Homo sapiens: one gene and its partners. The protein of the gene in region 1 purifies or fractionates together with the protein of each later gene. This does not show direct contact. Each region holds a gene or a part of one and is shown in the gene's direction. Other genes may lie near its edges.

Region 1 (7,643 bases):
CTTTACATCACAGTGTAGCAGGACGAGCCACAGTCAAAACTCCTCAGACACTGGATTAAAGAAGGAAGAGGCTTTATTTGGCTTGGAGCATCCACCAACTTGCGTCTTAAGAGCCGAGCTCCCTCAAAAAGAAATTCTTGGCCCTTTTAAGGGCTTACAACTCTAAGGGGTCCACCTGAAAGGATGGTGATAGATCAAGCAAGTGTGGGGAACGTGACTGGGGGCTACATGCATTAGCTTACAGAGCAGAAAGTTTTGCAATGCTTTTTCATACAATGTCTGGAAATTACAGATAACACAAGTAGTTTAGGTCAGGGATTGATATTATTATTATTATTATTATTATTATTATTATTATTATTATTTTAACTACCAGGGCCGGGTGGTGGCACCAGGCCATCTGGCTATTTATCTTACTTCTGTTTCTTTTTAACTTTTTGCTTTTTTCTTTTCCTCCTGTTTTATAAACTAGGCAAGGGGGGCGGGGTGCGCAGGAGAAGTGGTGGTCTTCTTCCTTAACAGCATGCAGTGCAGTTCTTGGTACCTGCATGTAGGTAAAGATCAAACTGTCAAACTGGTAGTCCTTAAGACTCTGCTTCCATGGGTATGACTTGTTCTAGGTATTATTGCCTAACAGAAATTTCCATTATCTAATTTTAAATTGTGTAAGGTTTCACAGTGAGATTATTCGAAGCATTTAGAGGTATTTACTAACCTGTGATGGCTTACAAATCTCTTCTTGTTGCAATAGGTGTGTTTGTAGTTGCTGCTAAGCGAACGCCCTTTGGAGCTTACGGAGGCCTTCTGAAAGACTTCACTGCTACTGACTTGTCTGAATTTGCTGCCAAGGCTGCCTTGTCTGCTGGCAAAGTCTCACCTGAAACAGTTGACAGTGTGATTATGGGCAATGTCCTGCAGGTTAGTAGAGTAAAGGAAGGTGTTCACTCCTATTGCTTCTTTGATCAGTTTCTAAAAATAATTCCTTTAACATATCATAATGGTAAACAAGTTAATAATAGTTATAGACTTTTTTTTTTTTTTTTTGAGATGGAGTCTCGCTCTGCCGCCAGGCTGGAGTATGGTGGTGCGATCTTGGCTCGCTGCAACTTCCGCCTCCCGGGTTCAAGCAATTCTCCTGCCTCAGCCTCCCGAGTAGCTGGGATTACAGGCGTGTGCCACCAAGCCCAGCTAATTTTTGTGTTTTTAATAGAGACAGGGTTTTACCACATTGGCCAGGATGGTCTCGATCTCTTGACCTCGTGATTCTCCTGTCTCGGCCCCCCAAAGTGCTGGGATGACAGGCGTGAGCCACCACTCCCAGCCAATAGTTACAGACTTTATACGTTTGTAATTTGAGTAATTCTGTGACTCCAGAATCAACAGCATGCATAATTCAAAGCATCATATGTTCTAGAAACTGTATGTCTGACTTGGGATGCATTTCAGTGCTTCCTAAATAGCAGATTGACTTCCTTGGCTTACTTGAAGTTAATTGATCTTCTCTATATGCCACCTTAGTAAACCCAAGCCATTACAGCACACCTCCCCTAATTTTCTTACACATTGTAGGAGCTTGATCAGTGTTTGTTGTAAGAAATAAGATGCTTCCTTACCCTCTGTCTTGCTATGTGTGATGTACAAAATCAATCATTCATATGCAGGTAATTGAAAATTCAGAATTCCTTTAAAGTATACAAACATTTGTTGGATACCTAGTTAGAGGCTATTATAGGTGCTATGGCACCCAAGGTGGACCAAAAGGAGGTAATAATCTAATGAAAAAGATAAGATATATATATATATATATATATATATATATGATCAGTTTCTGTGATATATCTTATGTATCATATATACACACACAAATATATATATGATACATATATTTAAAGATGTCAATGATGTGATCATTGCTAAAGGAAAGAGAATGACAATGGACACAGAAGTCACTAGGCCTTGCATTTGAACTTGATGCTGTTCATCTTGCCGTTGTGTATCTTCACATCCAGAAAAAGCAGTGACTTTTTTCCTTTGGCAGTTATGTCTGTTGAACCTAAAATATTTTCATAAAGAATTCTCAATATTGTCTTTTGTTCTTTTTATTTTATTTTGTAACTTTTACCTCTGACCTAAGAAGGCATTAGAACAGATTGAATAGAAATTGGATACTTCCGTTTTTTGCGTTTTCTAGAATTTTGAAGGAAAAATATTTTTTTCCCAGCATGTATTCTCTCAAACTTTATAACACAAAGTCACTATAAATAGTATCAGTTTCATTGTGTTTGTGCCTCTGTTCCTAAAGACAGTTTTTCTTGTGTTAAGTTTTCTGTCAGGCCAAGATAGAGTTTTCTTGTAAGGATGTTAAGTGCTTAACATAAATATTTGGGGTTAGGCCTTTATGGTTAAGAGAGAACAGAATATGCTTCGAATAACATTTGACAAATACCACAAAGCTGCTTTTCTAATTGAGTTTTATATTATTAAATATCACTTGGAATAAATGAGTTTTACTTATTTCATAGGAAACAATGAAATCCAATGTGGATTCTTTTTATTTCTTTTTCTTCCCTAATTGCCCTGGCTAGAATCTCCAATGTTGAATAGAAGTTATAAGAAATGGATATCTTTGTCTTATTCCTGATTATAGGGGGAAAGCATCTGGCCTTTCAACTTTACATATGATGATAGCTGTGGATTTTTTTTTTTTTTTTTTTATTGATCATTCTTGGGTGTTTCTCGCAGAGGGGGATTTGGCCCACAGGACAATAGTGGAGGGAAGGTCAGCAGACAAACAAGTGAACAAAGGTCTCTGGTTTTCCTAGGCAGAGGACCCTGCGGCCTTCTGCAGTGTTTGTGTCCCTGGGTACTTGAGATTAGGGAGTGGTGATGACTCTTAACAAGCATGCTGCCTTTCAAGCATCTGTTTAACAAAGCACATCTTGCACCGCCCTTAATCCATTTAACCTTGAGTGGACACAGCACATGTTTCAGAGAGCACGGGGTTGGGGGTAAGGTCACAGATCAACAGGATCCCAAGGCAGAAGAATTTTTCTTAGTACAAAACAAAATGAAAAGTCTCCCATGTCTACTTCTTTCCACACAGACACGGCAACCATCCGATTTCTCAATCCCTTCCCCACCTTTCCCCCCTTTCTACTCCACAAAACCGCCACGGTCATCATGGCCCGTTCTCCATGAGCTGCTGGGCACACCTCCCAGACGGGGTGGTGGCCGGGCAGAGGGGCTCCTCACTTCCCAGTAGGGGCAGCCGGGCAGAGGCGCCCCTCACCTCCCGGACGGGGCGGCTGGCCGGGCGGGGGGCTGACCCCCCCACCTCCCTCCCTCCCGGACGGGGCGGCTGGCCGGGCGGGGGGCTGACCCCCCCACCTCCCGGACGGGGCGGCTGGCCGGGCGGGGGGCTGACCCCCCACCTCCCTCCCAGACGGGGTGGCTGGCCGGCCGGGGGCTGACCCCCACCTCCCTCCCGGACGGGGCGGCTGGCCTGGTGGGGGCTGACCCCCACCTCCCTCCCGGATGGCGTGGTTGCCGGGCGGAGACGCTCCTCACTTCCCAGACAGGGTGGCTGCCAGGCGGAGGGGCTCCTCACTTCTCAGATGGGGTGGCTGCCGGGCGGAGGGGCTCCTCACTTAGACGGGGCGGTTGCCGGGCAGAGGGTCTCCTCACTTCTCAGATGGGGCAGCCGGGCAGAGACGCTCCTCACCTCCCAGATGGGGTCGCGGCCGGGCAGAGGCGCTCCCCACATCCCAGATGATGGGCGGCCGGGCAGAGACGCTCCTCACCTCCTAGACGGGATGGCGGCTGGGAAGAGGCGCCCCTCACTTCCTAGATGGGATGGCGGCCAGGCAGAGACGCTCCTCACTTTCCAGACTGGGCAGCCAGGCAGAGGGGCTCCCCACATCCCAGACGATGGGTGGCCAGGCAGAGACGCTCCTCACTTCCCAGACGGGGTGGCAGCCGGGCAGAGGCTGCAATCTCGGCACTTTGGGAGGCCAAGGCAGGCGGCTGGGAGGTGGAGGTTGTAGCGAGCAGAGATCACGCCACTGCACTCCAGCCTGGGCACTATTGAGCACTGAGTGAACAAGACTCCGTCCGCAATCCCAGCACCCCGGGAGGCCGAGGCTGGCGGATCACTCGCGGTTAGGAGCTGGAGACCAGCCAGGCCAACACAGCGAAACCCCGTCTCCACCAAAAAAATACGAAAACCAGTCAGGCGTGGCGGCGCGTGCCTGCAATCGCAGGCACTCAGCAGGCTGAGGCAGGAGAATCAGGCAGGGAGGTTGCAGTGAGCCGAGATGGCAGCAGTACAGTCCAGCTTCAGCTAGGCATCAGAGGGAGACCGTGGGGAGAGGGGGAGGAGGAGGGGGAGAGGGAGAGCTGTGGATTTTTTATAGATTCCCTTTGTCAGATTGAGAAAGTTGCCATCTGTTCCTAGTTTGTTCAGTGTTTTTGTCATGAAAGGGTGTTGTATTTTGTCAAATACTTTTTCTGTTGACTTTTTGTGTTGAAATCCACATTGGATTTCATTGTTTCCTAAGAAATAAGTAAAACTCATTTATTCCAAGTGATATTTAATAATATTAAACTCAATTAGAAAAGCAGCTTTGTGGTATTTGTCAAATGTTATTCGAAGCATATTCTGTTCTCTCTTAACCATAAAGGCCTAACCCCAAATATTTATCTGTTAATAATTTACACGAGATGATCGTGTAAATTTTTTTTATTCTGTTGATATGTGATATTTGACAAACCTTGGCAAAAGAATATCCATTGGCCAAGAATTTTTTTAATGACATTAATTTGTAAAATAAGATAATTTCATCTCAGTCAACAGATGAAACATTTAGTTAGTAGATTAATTGATGTTATACTGAGTTCCTCCCAGTTCCATCTGCATTCAAAACCCTTAACTTATAAATGTGCCGAATTTGTCAAGTTTTGAAAAACTTGAAACCTACACAAAAGTTAAAAGAATAGTACAATGAACATCCTAAAACCCCGTACCTTGATAGACCAATGTTTTACATTTTGTCAAACTTGCTTTTGCTCTTGCTAACAGCCTCCAAAACAGGCTGTTAATGTTTTTGGTTGTTGTTGGTTTTTTTTTTTTAAGTCATTCTTTTTATTCAAAGTGTGGTTCTTGGACTAGCAACATCAGCTTCACCAGGGAAATGGTTAGAAATGCAGAATCTCCGGCAGACCTAGACCTGTTGATTCAGAACTTACATTTTATTATAACAAGACGCCCCCATATGCATTTTAAAGTTTTGGGAGTGGTGGTCTACTCCTACCTCTTACTCTCCTGACCAATCATTCATCTGTCTTCTCCCTAAGTATGCAGTCCTCAGCCTGTTTTACATTAGAATTACTTGGGATGCTTTTTAAAAGTGACTACTGATGCCCAGGCCCCACCTCCAGCCTTTCTGGTTTAATTGATTTGCTTAGGAACTTAAGCATGAGTATGTTAATAAAGCTTCCTAGGTTATTCCAGCCTGCAACCAAGGTTGAGAACCACAGCCTCCGATACTTCCTCTGTTAAGGAGCATACTACTTTAGGATAGCGTATTCCATTTTTAAATAACTCTAATTGTTATAAATTTCTGTCTTATATTAAGGACTTAATGGGATTTCTCTAAGTAGCAATTATCTTTAATATATTTGAAAACCAATTGACTGTGGTTACACAACATTATGAATGTATTTAAATAATACCATTGAACTATACACTTAAAAATGGTTACAATGATACATTTTGTTATGTGTATTTTGCCCCAATAAAAAAATAGAAAAAAACCCAATTGACTGTAGTTTTTATTCAAATTGTAAACACATATTAGATATAATATGCTGTACTTAGATGCATTTTGTCCTACCTTAGAGCCATATAGTTTATCATTTTTGATAGATTGCCAACATTTCCATGTATTTCGTGCTTGTTCTTAATTAGTAGATTTATAGAGAAAATTATTTTTCTTTTCCTTCTCTCTTCTAGAGTTCTTCAGATGCTATATATTTGGCAAGGCATGTTGGTTTGCGTGTGGGAATCCCAAAGGAGACCCCAGCTCTCACGATTAATAGGCTCTGTGGTTCTGGTTTTCAGTCCATTGTGAATGGATGTCAGGTATGGACAACATTTTTTTAAATTCTCTGAAAATATGTTAATAGTTACTAGAAGAAATGTCCCACTGCAATATAACACTTTAGCTTTAGGGAGGATTGCTTGAGCCCTGGAGGTCAAGTAAACCATGATCATACCACTGCACTCCAGCCATGGGCAACAGAGTGAGACCTTGGCTCCAAAAAAAAGAAAAAAAAAAAAAAGCTAATAATGAACCTGAAAGTGGAATAAGCCTGTCATAAAAGGACAAATACTGTATGTTTCTACTTCTTTGAGATACCTAGCGTAGTCAAATTCATAGAGACAGAAAGTAGAATGGTGTTCCCAGGGACTGGTGAGGGAAAGTTAGTGTTTAATGGATATGGAGTTTCAGTTTTGCAAGATGAAAAGCGTTCTGGAGATGGGTGATGGTAATGGTTGCATCACACTATGAATACACTTAAACTACTGAGCTGTATACTTAAAAATGGTTAAAATGGTAAGTATTATATATATATATATACTTCAATATTTTTAAAAGCTAGTATGTTCATCATTCTTTCGAGTGCTTCCTACATGCTAGGCACCCTGCTAGATTTACATTCAATATCTCATTTAATCTTACAACCATCCTATGAAGCAAGAACTATTATTATTATTCCCATTTTACAGGCAAGGAAACTGATTAAAGCCATTAAGGTTACTCAGTCATAGAATTTGAACCCAGGTCTGTGAGTGTTACCTGTGAGGCACTGAATAAAGACCGTGAGGCAAGCAGGAAATCTCAAGAATTTAGGAGAGGATAAGGAAATGTATTTTATTTCAAAGGAAGTGAATGATGCTGTTAGTAGAAGTACAAACTAGTTTGACCTTTTTAAAGGACAGTTGGTTAAATACATTTGTTTCTTTGAGCACAGAGAAGAAAGTGAAATCCAATTTCATTTGTAAAAGTCTTCATTTTATTACAAACAAAATAAGAGCCAGAGGCGTATTTTAATAAAACAATTTTCACATTAATTTGTTTCTATAACGATATATCTTAAATAGTGACCTCGGTTTTCCTAGTAATAATTTTAAGAACCATCAGGTTCATAGAGGCTCATTATTTGCTCCTTTTCTGAGAAAGGCAAACAGTGGAAAGTGTTGGAAGAATGAAGTGGTTTCCTTTTTATGAGTCACCTAGATTGAACTAGTTCTTGTAAATCTCTGTTCTTGTTCAGATACATCCATTAATGGGATAAATTTTTCTTTTGCCTTTTTAAAGGGTATGTCCTTTATTATCTGCTGTACATTTATGCCAGGTATTAATATCTGTTGATTTTCAAGATTTATATTGTGTTAAGAATTACTATTCTTAGCCACATGTAGGTAGGGCCTGTTACTCAGGCAAACATGATTGAAACCTTTTAGTTTTCTCCTCCTACATCTTGGTAATGGATACTTTAGCATTTGCTTTACAGTTACTTTAAAAGCATTTCCTTTTGAGACACTGTAAGCTACAGTACAATATTTGTTTGATTTACCATTA
Region 2 (7,643 bases), on another chromosome or scaffold:
AGTGCTGAGGTTACAGGCATGCGCCACCATGCCCGGCCTCGTGTTGCTGTTAAAGTAAACTTTATCTCATATTGTAGTTCAGCCATGCTGTGGATGGAAAAAAGCATTAGGCTCAGGAGACCTGAGTGGCAGTTCTGGCTTTCCATAAACTTAACTGTGACATCAGGCAAGCCACGTCCCTTCATGGACTTCAGTTTCCTTATCTGTAAGATATGGGGTTGGATTACATGATCTCCAAGCTCTCTTCAGCTCCTGATTCCCTTTAATTTTATATCAGCAATTTTAATGTGAATTTTATTATTCAATTTTATTTTATATGAAATCAATGCTGAGGTTGAAATAAGGACTCAGGCCTTTGAGGAATCCGGGAAGCCCTCCCTCCTAGGCCTGCCAGTGCTTGGTGGCTTTGGCCACAGCAGCTCACTTGTCCTTACCTTTTCACCAGTGGTTGGCCATTGAGCTCAGTCAGAATCTGCTTAGGGTAGAAAGAGGCTGGTGCTGGGACTGACGTAAAGAGCTGAGTAATCTTCTCATTAGTGTGAAGGATTGGAAAGGGACCTCTGTTCCCTGACAGTAGATTACTGCGGTAAAAGGCCGGGTGTAGTGGCTCGTGCTTATAATCCAGTATTTTGGGAGGATCCCTTGAGCCCACGAGTTCAAGGCTGCAGTGAGCAGTGATCATACTACTGCACTCTGGCCTGGGTAACAGAGAGAGACCCTGTCTCTTAAACAGAAAAAAACAAAAAGATCACTGCAATAAAAGTGAGTGGTAGCAACTTTTTTTTTTTTTTTTTTTTTTTTTTGAGACAGTCTTGCTTTATCGTCCAGGCTGGAGTGCAGTGGCATAATCTCAGCTCACTGCAACTTCCGCCTCCTGGGTTCAAGCGATTCTCATGCCTCAGCCTCCATTGTAGCTGGGATTACAGGCATGTGCCACCATGCCTGGCTAATTTTTGTATTTTTGGTAGAGATGGGGTTTCACCATGTTGCCCAAGCTGGTCTTAAACTCCTGACTTCAAGTAATCGGCCCACCTTGGCCTCCCAAAGTGTTGGGATTATAGGCGTGAGCCACCGCACCCAGCCTGCAACTTTTTTTTAGATACACACACTTAGGACAAAGTCATGAAGAGAAGCACAGTCCTTGCCCCTACGTGTGTTGATCAAGCAGGCCCTCCTTAGTTCATGGCTGAAGTGGCAGGAAGGGTAAGGTGAAGTAAGATGTTAGCAGCCATGTTACTCTGTGGCCAGAGTGTCAAAATCAGAAGTCAGCAGGGGCAGCAATAGAAACATGGACAAGGCCAGGCGTGGTGGCTCATGCCTGGAATCCCAGCACTGTGAGAGGCTGAGGTGAGTGGATCACCTGAGGTCAGGAGTTTGAGACCAGCCTGGCCAACATGGTGAAACTCCATGTCTACAAAAATTAGCTGAGTGTGGCGGTGTGCTCCTGTAATCCCAGCTCATCAGGAGGCTGAGGCGTTAGAATTGCTTGAACCCAGGAGGCAGGTGTTGTGCTGAGCCAAGATCACACCGCTGCACTCCAGCCTGGGCGACAGAGCGAGACTCCGTTTCAAAAAAAAAAAAGAAACACGGACAATGGAGTCCTGATGTGAGCGTCAGTTATACAACTGACGGTCCAGGTGGTGACAGCCAGGAGAGAGACTGCCCAGGTCATCCAAACACCTGGCCTCCTGGGCAGGTGTGTCCCTGTCATGGAGCTGGGTGTAGATGACTGAGAGTTTGATGCCATGAACTGTTTGGCTCTCGTCACTCCCTTTGTTCCAGTTCTTGACAACTAAATAATTTTCGGATAATCTGGCTTCCCAGTTGCTTGTCTATAGGGCCAGAATGTGTTGACCGGACTAACATTTGTAACCACGAAGATCCATAGTTAAGGTTTTCATCCTACATTCATTAACGGGTATTCTGATTTTATACATCTTGCCAGCTTATAAATAAAGATCTGGTCTTTATTTATAAATATAAATATAAATATAAATATAATGATGGGGCCTTGGAGGGACTCCTTTCTGGGCTTACAAGGTTGAGACCTTGGATCTAGGGTCATTTTACTTTTCAGTAGCCATTAGGAACAACTACAATACATTTATATTTTGAAAAAAAACAAGTGATTTAATTGGCCAATATATTTTAACCTCTAGTTGCTAGAAAAGTGGTAACTTTGGGAAAAAGAGGACTTTTTTTCTTGTGGGTGGGGGCTGGGAAGGTGGGGAGTTGCTTTGAATGATGAGAAAGAGTAGAAAATACAGGCTAGAGAGCCATAAGTATTGAAAGTGAATTCAGGGACTTTGAGAAACCTTGAGAAGAATGAGTCTAGAATTAGTGTTAAATAATATTGTACTGGACTGAAGCTTGCTTTGAATTGCTATATGATTCTTGTATCAAAAATGCTGTACTCATTTTATACTTGTTATTTTTTGTGTGGAGAGGTAGCCTTGCCAGGGATGTTGGCATGAAAGCTGATGTGGACTTCTCTGATGTGTCGCCTGTTTCTCTGAAGGCCTCTTGGTGCTTGTTGTCCTGACAGGTGGGAGATGAGGGAGCAGGCCACTTCGTGAAGATGGTGCACAACGGGATAGAGTATGGGGACATGCAGCTGATCTGTGAGGCATACCACCTGATGAAAGACGTGCTGGGCATGGCGCAGGACGAGATGGCCCAGGTGAGGCCCCGGCACTGCCTCTGTGTCCGTTCTGCAGGGAGTGCTCACTTTGCCACAGACACCGAATCTTTTCTTCATTCCTATCCCCTTGGCCATTCGGGTGGCCTGCATGGACTCAGCCTAATTTGAGGGAAACTGTTAGTAATAGGCCTATACACTATGCTAGTCAGTCACTAAGCAGAAAGTCCCCACAGAGTCTGGGTGGTTATCATCACCACCATTTAGCGTAGCTTACCTGGTGTCAGGCACTGTGTCACTCCACATACCTGTCCCATTTACTCCCACAGTTGTCCCACATGGCAGATGCAGCAGAAGCTTTCTTTCCTGATCAAGTTGGGATTGGCTTTTTGATAGTTAATCTGAAAAGTCAGTCCAAGTAGGGAAGCTGAAGCATTTCCCCCAACATTTTATTATGACAATATTCAACCATGCAGCACAGAAGTTTGAGAGTTTTACAGTGAACACCTGGATACACACCTCCTCCTTTCTCCCATCCACAGGTTCCTGTACTTGCTTTAGCAATGTCTGTCCATCCCCCACCAATTTCATCTTATTTTTTGGATACATTCAAAGTAAACTGCAGGTATCCATACTTTTGTTTTCCCTAAATACTTTAGATGAATGTATCTTTATCATGAGGTAAACATAGATTTTAACTGAAAACATAGGAAAGGACTTTCATTCACCCGCCATTTTTTGGAGGGCCAAGGCCTTCTCGTTAAGTATGGTTTGCTGATGCGCTTTCTAGTCGTGTCTTACCATCTAGAATTTCTAGTTTCAGTTATTTCCAATGGGATGTGATTTACAGACTCTAGCAAGGCATACAGTATAGCTTTCCAGATTTTTTGTTGTTTTCCTCCTAGTTTTTTATTCATGTCATCCTCACTTACTTTGACTATTGTTTGTTTCACTGGATTGCTGTTAATTGTTCTTTCTAAAACATTACCTTAGTTTTCTTTCACAGAAACAGTGCTATTCTTTTTGTGTTCATTTTTTATTGGTATATATAATACTTAACGTGTTCACTCAGCAAACACACGAGTGCTTTACTATATGCCAAGCATGATTCTAAATGCTGGGGATATACTAGTGAAGAAAGCAAAGTGCCTGCCCTCCCGGAGCTGGGAAGACAGACAGAAATAAATATACAATATCAAACTAGTTAGCGATGACTGTGAGAACGAAGAGTAAACTGGGACAAGATCCGGTGATTGCAGAAGGCTTCTGAGGAGGCGACACTGCACAGAGACCTAAGTGAAGTGAGGAGCCCTTGCCTCTGAGGAGACAACACTTCTGGTGGCCAGAAATTCAGTATAACCAGGTTCAGAACAAACACAACTGACTCTGGGTTAGCATAAAACTCAACCAGCAGGAGCAGAAGTCCCCAGGCAGACGCGAGCAGAGCCTGCTGGCAACCGTGAGCATTGGTCAGCGTGGACATTGGACAAGGGGCTTCCTTGCTCAGCCCTCATTCCTCTAACATGGTTCTCTCCTGTGTTCTGCATGTAGGCCTTTGAGGATTGGAATAAGACAGAGCTAGACTCATTCCTGATTGAAATCACAGCCAATATTCTCAAGTTCCAAGACACCGATGGCAAACACCTGCTGCCAAAGATCAGGGACAGCGCGGGGCAGAAGGGCACAGGGAAGTGGACCGCCATCTCCGCCCTGGAATACGGCGTACCCGTCACCCTCATTGGTAATGTTATGCTTTTCACATGGGCCCTTTCGTCCACTATTCTGATCTTGATGTCTGGAGGACAGATACAGACTGGTCTTTAGAGAATCTCTTCAGCCCTCTTTAGCTTTCAGAGTGCCTTTTGCTCTTTCTTGCGTTGAAGAAACTGACAGTGTGAGAGAGGCTGACGCTGCTTTTGATTCTCTTCCTTGTAGTTCTTATCTCATTCGTACAAACTGTGAGGTAAATTCAGAAGTGACTGTCCTTCCTATCCAGTTTTATCTTTGGAATATTTTAGCATTAGTGATGTAATTGTAGTCAGTGATCTAAGATTTTATTTATGAGGCAGGTAACTTGAGTAAAATTTTTCATAGAAAAGTTCATGAATAACAGGGCCGGGCACAGTGGTTCACGCCTGTAATGCCAGCACTTTGGGAGGCCGAGGCGGGTGGATCATGAGGTCAGGAGATTGAGACCATCCTGGCTAACATGATGAAACCCTGTTTCTACTAAAAATACAAAAAATTAGCCAGGTGTGGTGGCACGTGCCTGTAGTCCCAGCCACTCAGGAGGCTGAGGCAGGAGAATTGCTTGAACCTGGGAGGCAGAGTTTGCAGTGAGCTGAGATGGCACCACTGCACTCCAGCCTGGGTGACAGAGCGAGACTTCGTCTCAAAAAAAAAAAAAAATTAGCAGGTGCCTGTAATCCCAGCTACTCAGGAGGTTGAGCCATGAGAATCGCTTGAACCCAGGAGGCAGAGGTTGCAGTGAGCCAAGATCATGCCACTGCACTCCAGCCTGGGCAACAGAATGAGACTCCATCCCCTCCAAAAAAAGTTTGCGAATAACATATGCTTGTGTACTCAGAAATTATTAAAAATTTACTTTTTTCCCCTAGATATTAAAAAGATAAAAATTACCTATCCATTTGAGTCCTCGTTGTTTTGCTAAGTTCCTTCTCCTTCCTCTTTTAGAAGAAAGCCACTATCCTGAAGTTGGTGTGTATCCTGCCCACTTGTTTTATATCTTACATTAGTGAGCTAAGCATCAAACTCAGAAAGATAAGGAAATAATATAAAGAAATAAACATAAAACGAGAGGGGATTAACAATATCAAAATCTTGGCCGGGGGGGTGGTTTTCAGTGTGTTTGTTTGTTTTTTGAGACGGTGTTGTGCTCTGTCACCCAGGCTGGAGTTCAGTGGCATGATCTCGGGTCACTGCAACCTCCACCTCCCGGGTTCAAGTGATTCTCCTGCCTCAGCCTCCCGAGTAGCTGGGATTACAGGCATGCGCTACCATGCCTGGCTAATTTTTGTGTGTTATTAGTGGAGACGGGGTTTTACCATATTGGTCAGGCTGGTCTCGAACTCCTAACCTCAGGGGATCTGCCCGCCTCGGCTTCCAAAAGTGCTGGGATTGCAGGCGTGAGCCACCATGCCCAGCAAAGGTGGTTCTAAGAGTAAAATACATAGACTTCTGGCAGGAATGAAAAAGGAGAACGAAGGATGCCTCTCGTGGTTAATGAGAGGCTGATCTTTGCTTCTGGCAGATTGTTCTCACTATATTAAAACAGAATTGGGCCAGGCGCGGTGGCTCACGCCTGTAATCCCAGCACTTTGGGTGACCGAGGTGGGCGGATCACGAGGTCAGGAGTTTGAGTCCAGCCTGACCAACATGGCGAAACCCCATCTCTACTAAAAATACGAAAGTTAGCCAGGCATAGTGACCCGTGCCTGTAATCCCAGCTACTCAGGAGGCTGAGGCAGGAGAATCACTTGAACCTGGGAGGCGGAATTTGCAGTGGGCTGAGATCGCACCACTGCACTCCAGGCTGGGCGACCGAGCAAGACTCCGCCTAAAAAAAAAAAAAGAAGCATCTCAAAAATAATAAAACAGAATTTTTCCTGTTTGCTCCTCTGGATACAGGTTGCCTTTCTCTCCCTTGACTCTTCTCCCCTTTTGACCTCCCTGTTCATTGTGCCTCGCCCTATTGAACTGTGTGGTGTAAGGCAGAGTAAGGAGGAAAGTCGGTGGTTTCTACAGTTCCGTGCTGTATAGAAGGAAGTTGGCTGCTTTTAGCCGATCTGAGCCATAACATAGGTGAGGAGGGAGGGGCCAATAGCTAGGAGCAATTTATTCATCACGGACTCAAGTATATGTGTAAGTATTAGGATCTCAGAATCCTACTCTCCTCCTGTGGATCCATATACCTCTTCCCCCAGGGTGGCTGGGCCCACCCCCTGCTGGGAGCCATCATTATTTGTGAACTAACAGGGAAGTCTTCCAGCTGCCCTCTCCCCCTCTAACAGGAAGGGTTTGCCTCATAGCCTGTTGCACCAGTCATCTTACAAAGCTTCCTTCTAGAAATGCTAAGTCATCCTGTGTGTGCATTTGGGCCAGGAGAGAGGTAGCTGCTTTTGTGTGTTTGGAGTAGGGTTAGCAGTCTCAAGCCATAGCTGCTCCTCTTTCCTCAGAAATAAAGTCCTCTGTTAGTTCCCTGAGATTTTACTTCATTTTGTCTATGGGGGAAAAAGTGGTTAAAGAGTCATTTATTCTAACTATAAGTTGTCAGTTGAGCAAGTCTTTTATAAGGAATACTTTCTGAAAATACTAAATGTCTTAATATTAAAATACTACATTGACTTTTTAATTCAAATGAAGTAAAGTGGTTAAACTTGAATGATTACGGCTATACTGAAAACCGTAAAATATAAAAACCTAACATTTTTTTGAGAGGTGAGTCCGTAAATGTGACTTATCAATGTAAAATCTTCAAAAAAAAAAATTAAGGTCCTCTAAATTGAATTTGAAATTTTACTCATGGACCAACACTGAGTATTCTACATAACAGTGGTTTTTATTTTATTTTACTGGTTTTAGAGACAGGGTCTCACTGTGTTGCCCAGGCTGGAGAGCAGTGGTGTGATCATGGCTCACTGTAGCCTTGAACTCCTGGGCTCAAGTGATCCTCCCACCTCAGCCTGCCAAAGTGCTGGGATTACAGGTGTTAGCCACCTTGCCCAGCCATAACAGTGGTTTCTATCTCTTCATTTTCCCTCAAAACTCCCTTTTGAATTTCATGTTAATCTTTGTGATTGAATACTCATGTTTGTATTGGAAGATTGTCTTAAGAGTTTTAGTTATCAAATTAACTGTTTAGAGCTTCTTATAAAAGTTCCTTCCGATCCATGTCAACTTTTGTGGCCTAAGGTTGAAACTTTCAGCTCTTTGTATAAACAGACTTTCCTGCTCCACCTTTCTTCTGGTTGCTGTGCGAACTTTG
Region 3 (7,643 bases), on another chromosome or scaffold:
TTTTTATAAGAGTCTTCATTTCATCTTCATCTTGAATAGTCAGACTATGAAAAGGTTAATTAAATTATTATTAAGTAAACTGCATGTTTCTTTTGTCAGGTTAAACATGGTGGTTTTGTTTATTACCAAGAAGGTTGTTGCTTGGTTCGTTCCAAAGATGAAGAAGGTACACCACAATTTTTCTTTTTACGTGCTCTAATTTTCAGATTTCATATTTTTTATAGGAAATTTATTAATTTCTCAAAGATAGAGAAAAGATTTTTTTAAAGATTATTTCTGAATTTTTTTTTAATGACTAGTTTTTAATATCTGGGTTTGTGTAAGATATAGTTAGACTCAGAAGCTTTGGCAGGGAGAATGGAGACGGCATCCAGCATTTTTTGAGCATCTGCTGTGTCTTGGGTACTATGCTAGGCACTTGGCATATATTGTTGATTGTCATTTATATTCACTTACTTTCTAGGTTCTGTATGGTCTGTAAATACTAAACTAGACTATAACAATATCAAATAATGTCTCATAGGTTGATGCACAGAATAGTATTGAATAGTATAAGGTAATATTAAATAACTTATTGTCAGTTGATGTGCAAGTTAAGCTGCCATCATTGTTGAAAGAAGCTAGGATATGGCCTCTTACAGAATGGGAATTCTAATTTAAAACATTAAAATACAGTTTTAATTTTTTAAAGTACATCCTTTGAAGTTATCACTTTCGTATTTTTCTTTATACAGCAGACAATGATAATTATGAAGTTTTATTCAATTTGGAGGAACTTAAGTTAGACCAGCCCTTCATTGATTGTATCAGAGTTGCTCCAGATGAAAAATATGTGGCTGCCAAGATAAGAACTGAAGATTCTGAAGCATCTACCTGTGTAATTATAAAGCTCAGCGATCAGCCCGTAATGGAAGCTTCTTTCCCGAATGTGTCCAGTTTTGGTAAGCCACCAACCAAAATAGTCCTCTGTGTTGAAAGGCAACGGTAACACTTTTGAAACATTTTTTTGTCGCATGTGAGGGAGGGAGAAGGTGAATGCCTGATTCATGTATCCCTATGGACTATACATCTTCCTATGTACCTCTTATTCAGGAGACCTTCCCTTATTTAATTATATATCTAGATGGGTAATTTTAAAATACTCATGTTTTTAAAAGTGTTATAATTAGAGTCCATGTCATACAATATGTTTTGATTTATCAGAATTATTTGCCAAATTATTATCTAGAATAAATTTTTACACGTAAGTTGCATCTTAATATTTTATTCAACTTTAAGCTTGAATGTATTTTTTTAATTTCATGTTATCTTATAGAGCTGTTACAGCATAAAGTCACTACCAAAGAACTTGGTATGTGTTGAACTAACCTGTTTATCAATGGAAGCTGTGACATTTTTAGTAATAGAACTAACTTTAAATTTATCATTGAGTGGTACATATGTTACATTTTGTCCTCCCTTTTCATTTTCAGCCATCATTTTCTCCATTGTTTAACTAAATGTTGTTGCAGTGAATTGAAATTATACCCTAACTATTGAATTCTAAGACATATATTTTGTACATTTTATAACCTTTAAAATCATGGTGCATATTATACAATGATGACTTACAATCACTGTCAGCCAGGTGGCAGTCATGGTGTAATTGTGTGCAAACTTCTGTTGACAGCTTCTGGTGGGATCAAGAATCAGCATTAAATTGTGTTTGGTAGTTGGAGATATCCTGTGGCTTGAAAGCAGACAGAGAAGGTTTACACATGAGAGAAAGATGCAATATTCCTTCAGACTTACAGTTTCAAGTTGTAGATTGAGACGGAATTCACCTCCTAAAAGCAAATGTGACTTTACCAATGTCTTTCCTAAATATTGAGCATTTAGCTCTTATTTAGAAACCTGAGTACCCTGAGACTGATAACTACTTGAAACCTTGGAATGGTGTAGTAGTGGTTTATTCTCAGGAAAGCTCTCTGGCTTATATACAGCACAGATTAGATACAGTCAAATATTTAGATTTCCAGGGATAAACTTGCACATGTTCTCACTGGCATTCAAAATTAGAATGTGCTGTGCTTTTTTTTTTTTTTTAATGGAGTGTAGGTGATTATGTATAATTATCTCATTATTTTCTTTCAGAATGGGTAAAGGACGAGGAAGATGAAGATGTTTTATTCTACACCTTCCAGAGGAACCTTCGCTGTCATGACGTATATCGAGCCACTTTTGGTGATAACAAACGTAATGAACGCTTTTACACAGAAAAAGACCCAAGGTACTAGAATAATATAATTAAATCTTTCTCTCCAGAACCTTCCTCCAGTTATTTAAAGTACTGACTTTGGTTGACTTAAAACGTTTATTTTGGTTGGAACCAGGAATAATAAGGCTAAAACGATCATTCTTTTATTAGTTGTTTGTATTCAAAATTGGAGTCTGGTAATATTCAAAATCAGAGTAAATACAGATATATCACTAATATTTTATTAAAAACTGAAATTGATTTTGTGAATTACAACATAGTTCATTCATGTAAATTCATAAAGATGACCTAGAACTGCTAGATTGTGAACAGACTGAGTCTGTTTCACCTTTGCATCTTAATTGATAAGCAGGGTGCCAGGTTTGTATAGTGCTATTTAGTCAGTATCTATTGCTTAAATAAATGGTATATACTTAGATAGGTATCTCTCTTTCAAACTAAAACCCCTTGTTCCTGATGATTGTTGAGTACCTTTTAACCATTAAATTCTTAGTAATATATAGAAGAATTTAAAGTATGTGTTGCTACTAAATTATAAATTAAAACTAACTCAAAAATGTATTATTGTGCTAGGTGAAAAAATTAAATATATGCTATGGTTTCAATTGGGTATCAAGGAAAAAAGATGCATTTTTAAAAGATTGAAAGGAAATACACCCAAAGTACTAACAATGGTTTTTTTTTTACTTTTCTTTTTTTCTTTTTGTAATAAGCATTATTATTTTTATAATACATTTTAAATTTAAAAATAATTGTCGATAGAAATAATTGGAAAAAAAGATTAATGTCTAGTTCTTTATATTTCGTATATTCTCTTAGACACATTTTACCCTAGAGCCACTTGTGTTCTCACTTCCTGTAACCACATATCTAACAACTATTTGGTCAAGTAGTTTATTTTTAATTTGTCATCACCAAACTAAGCAAACAAAAATATATAAAAACAGCGAAGAAAGTGTTGAAAATAAAGAGCAAAGTAGGGTAGGGGACTTGCCCTACAATTATATATTAAAGCATATAAAGCAATAACAGTAAAAATAATACAAATTGATAGACAAATAATAGAGCTTAGAATAACTCTAAAACATAGATCCTAGTCTATGTGAAAATTTATATGATAAAAGGCATCACAAACTAATGAAAAATGAATCGGTGTTATTTTATAATGCAATGGGAAATACTATTTGGGAAAAAATAATTTTCATCATTGTATATGTCAGCATACATTCCTAAGAGATTTAAAGAACCCATTGAGAAAAATAATTTTTTAATAAGATGAAAATATAAGCTTTTTAGTCAGCTTGGTTGGAATATTTTTGAAACATAAAATCAATATAAGAAATTACAAAGGGTAGTAGCAGTCTCGATTACGTAAAATATTAAACTCAAGTCAAAAACCACAAAAACTATTGTAAATAGTTAAAATCTAGGTAACAAAATGGAGGAAAGTGTTTTCAACAAAAAGACAAGTTAATGTTCTTAATTTTTTTTTTTTTTTTTTGAAACAGAGTCTCACTCTGTCACCCAGACTGGAGTGCAGTGGCGCAATCTCAGCTCACTGCAACCTCTGCGTCCCAGGTTCAAGTGATTCTTCTACCTCAGCCTCCCAAGTAGCTGGGATTACAGGCACCTGCCACCATGCCTGGCTAATTTTTGTATTTTTTGTGGAGACGGGGTTTCACCATGTTGGCCAGGGTGGTCTTGAACTCCTGATCTCAGGTGATCTGCCAGCTTTGGCCTCCCAGAGTGCTGGGATTACAGTTGTGAGCCACTGTGCCCAGCCAATATTCTTAATTTTTAAAGAGCTATTTACATACTAATAATTTAAGCTACATTCAAAGTTTAAAATAGACACACATTTCACAAAAGAAATAACGATTGACAAATAAACATGGTAATGTGATCCAATACAGAAGAAATTTTACCAAACTATAAGCAGTTGTTATTTGGGGGCATTGGGATTCTTTACGTTTTTCAGTAGTTTCAGTATAAATTACTTTTATAATAAGGAAAAATATAAATATAACATTTAAAGCCACTCATTATGTTAGTATAGTGCTTCTAGGATATTATTTGATTATATTCATCAAGTCATAAAAATACACTTATTAAATTAGTATTTCCATTTCTAAAAATTTGTCTTGGGAAAATAATTGTGAAGATCATGGAAGGGGAAAATATCTTCATGAATATGTTTCTTGTTATATTGTTTATTATAATGAAACATTAAAATCTAAATTTTTAAGAATTATGATATATTAGGTAGCCATTAAACCTGTTATAATATTAGGTAGCCTTTAAAAATAATAATCACAAAGACTTTCAACTCATGTAGGGAGAAAATTGATATATGAAGTAAGAAATACAGAATCAAAAATTGTATCTATAATTACATCTATTTAAAGACACACATGAAATATAAATATAACTTAGAAGGAAAAATTTAAAAAGTAAAATAGCTATGTTAATGTTTTAAATGTGTTACGTTAGTAAGATTGTGAGGGGTTTTCTTCCTATTCTATTTTGTTGTAAAAACTGGGAGAAAGGAAAAAAAAATCCAAAATGCATGCAGAGAAAGAAGAAAATAAAAATAACTCCGTGTCCCTTTTATTCCCTATTTGTGTCTCCTATAGAAAGTTTATTTCCTCTTCTCAGCAAAAAGCTATGTTATCTACTCATGTGATTGAGAAATGACGTTTGTAGTTTACCTTGAAATGCATCCAAATAAAGATGGATTAATAGGTGCATAGATATGTAATAAAGTAAATGTAGCAAAATGTTAGCAATGATGGAATCAAGATGGTTTTTTCAACTTTTCTGTATTTTTGAAAAACATTTATGATAAAATGTTAGAAGTAAATTATTTTGAATGCCCTTTAGGAGAAAATGAGAAAAATAATAGCTAATTGTTAAAGTTACAAGTGATATTCACTAAGGAATTATTTTAATTTCCTATCTGCATTATAAATCAACATGTATACTGACCACCTCTGAGATACTGTCCTTAACAAGGTAGCATGCATCTGAAATAAACTGTGATCTCATGTCTCTCTCTCTCTCTCTAGCTACTTTGTTTTCCTTTATCTTACAAAAGACAGTCGTTTCCTCACCATAAATATTATGAACAAGACTACTTCTGAAGTGTGGTTGATAGATGGCCTGAGCCCTTGGGACCCACCAGTACTTATCCAGAAGCGAATACATGGGGTCCTTTACTATGTTGAACACAGAGATGATGAATTATACATTCTCACTAATGTTGGAGAACCTACAGAATTTAAGGTAATCCTGGATGCTCGTTGTTCCTATTTGGGCTGTTAAGAAGTGTCACACTTCGATCAACAACATTTCTTGCTCCAAGAGCTCATTGTTTTATAAATTGATGCCACCTTCCTATGTATAACCAATCCCATTTCTTTTCCCTTAGAGCTAATGCCTCTACATATTTTAATTGTGCCTAAAAAGTTAGTAAATAAAACATATTCTGTCCTGAGTTTATGTTAACAAAATCAAACTTAGTAGCTTAAAAGAGCAAACTTACAAACTCGTGATTTTATGAGTTGGCAATTTGGATTGATCTCAGCTAGGCAGTTCTTCTGCTGATATCAGCTAAGCTCACTGATGTATCTGTAGTCAGCTAGCTGTCAGTGCCCTCACTCAAATGTCCAGTGGTTGGCTAAGCACTGGATATACTGTCTCACCACCCAGCAGGCTAGTCAGGACTCATTCATATGGTTGATGGTCACACTTTATCCCTGATGCAGCGTTAGTTCCTTCAGCTCTTCATAAAACAGTGAGGACTAGTATGGTCTAGTTCTCAGTGATTGCATCTCTGGATGCTGCAGCCTTCGTGTTTTCTTACCTATATGTCTTCTAACTTTGTTCCACGTAGCTAATGAGAACAGCGGCTGATACCCCTGCAATTATGAATTGGGATTTATTTTTTACAATGAAGAGAAATACAAAAGTGATAGACTTGGACATGTTTAAGGATCACTGTGTTCTATTTCTGAAGCACAGCAATCTCCTTTATGTTAATGTGATTGGTCTGGCTGATGATTCAGTTCGGTCTCTAAAGGTATGTTTAATTTTCAGAAGTTAATACTGTTAATCAAAATATTTATGCAGTTTAGCTTAACAGAACATCACATTTTGAATAGTGGCAGCAGTGTTCTTTTTCTTGAAAGGAATGTAACTTAAATGGAATTTAGCAAAGTCACTCTTGGGTTTAGGAGGGTTATCTTAGAATTACTTAGAGGATCTTGCTTTTTATGCAGTTTTACTTAAGATAGTGTCTTATGGCATGGACTTCACAAGTAGAGTTGAGTGCTAATATTTCTCTTTCTGTATATCTCTCTACCTCACATATCTCTGCAACTTGAGATATAGTAAAAACTCAGGCCAAAGTTGGTAGCTAGTGCCTAAACACTGACTGCTGTTCCCCCATCCCACATCCCCAACAGGGACAGTAGTGGTATCCACTGTGTTTTTAGCCACTACATGCTTTTGTCTGCATCATCTTCTGTCTGCCAGTTTTCTTATCCGCAGGGGATGCAGGGAACAAACTTTGGTTTCTTTCAGTGTAGGAGTAGCAGTGGTCTCCACAGCAGCACAGAAGGCTAATAGTGGCAAGACTGCTTGGCAAGCTGACTAGTTGATACTGCTTGTGGCTACCAGGAAAGATAACCTGCCTTCACAAGTGAACTTCCTAAAATTGGTGAATGACAACCTTATTGCCTAGTTTTAAAGCAGCATTAACATGTGAGTTGAGGTAGTAGGCACTGAAGGGAAGAGGATGGCTTCCATTTTGTTTGATATGAAAAGAGTTACTGAGCCAGTTGATGAGCAAACAGCATAGACCATTTATACCTCCCTAACTCCAATATTCTTAAAACTCCTGTAAAAATGCAATTTCAGTCAATTCAGTGGCTTTTTATTGAACTTTCATGTGCACAATACTGTATCGGGCATTATAGAATCGAAAGCTGTTAAAGCAGAATATCCTAGCCTTAAGGAAGATATAGTTAATCACAAGATTAAACTAGTACATAAAGGTTAAGTGTATCATGGATTTGAATAAGTAGTATCAAAAACATAAAATGTGCTGTGGGGCTCAAACTAGAGAAGAAGGCCCAGGAAAGCTTTTGGTAAAGTTGGTTGAATGTGAAATAAACCAGAGAAGAGAGATAGGATTTTGACAGGTGGAGAGGGGATGGTATTCCAAGATGAGAAAGCCATCAAATGAAGCTGTATGCTCTGACATTCAGAAAATGTTCAGGAAACTGTTAATTATTCTGTTTTATTAAAGCGCTATACATTTCTGGGGGATGAAGTCATGATTTGACTTTTTGTGAGTGTCAATATGAGGAATTTATTAATTATGAAA

Evidence for each region. Proteins that work in one complex are often made in the same cells at the same time.
Region 2: the proteins of ACAA2 (region 1) and PGD fractionate together in Homo sapiens (co-fractionation; 3 studies listed by BioGRID). This does not show direct contact.
Region 3: the proteins of ACAA2 (region 1) and PREPL purify together in Homo sapiens (affinity purification with mass spectrometry; 3 studies listed by BioGRID and IntAct, with this or other methods). This does not show direct contact.

What each region holds. Positions count from the first base shown.
Region 1 is NC_000018.10:49,795,962-49,803,604, reverse strand, and holds part of ACAA2 (3-ketoacyl-CoA thiolase, mitochondrial), read left to right. Parts: intron 1-751; coding exon 752-918; intron 919-6,010; coding exon 6,011-6,139; intron 6,140-7,643. UniProt on the Homo sapiens protein: In the production of energy from fats, this is one of the enzymes that catalyzes the last step of the mitochondrial beta-oxidation pathway, an aerobic process breaking down fatty acids into acetyl-CoA.
Region 2 is NC_000001.11:10,408,873-10,416,515, forward strand, and holds part of PGD (6-phosphogluconate dehydrogenase, decarboxylating), read left to right. Parts: intron 1-2,545; coding exon 2,546-2,680; intron 2,681-4,189; coding exon 4,190-4,379; intron 4,380-7,643. UniProt on the Homo sapiens protein: Catalyzes the oxidative decarboxylation of 6-phosphogluconate to ribulose 5-phosphate and CO(2), with concomitant reduction of NADP to NADPH.
Region 3 is NC_000002.12:44,337,043-44,344,685, reverse strand, and holds part of PREPL (prolyl endopeptidase-like), read left to right. Parts: intron 1-99; coding exon 100-166; intron 167-734; coding exon 735-941; intron 942-2,133; coding exon 2,134-2,269; intron 2,270-5,322; coding exon 5,323-5,539; intron 5,540-6,149; coding exon 6,150-6,335; intron 6,336-7,643. UniProt on the Homo sapiens protein: Serine peptidase whose precise substrate specificity remains unclear. Does not cleave peptides after a arginine or lysine residue. Regulates trans-Golgi network morphology and sorting by regulating the membrane binding of the AP-1 complex.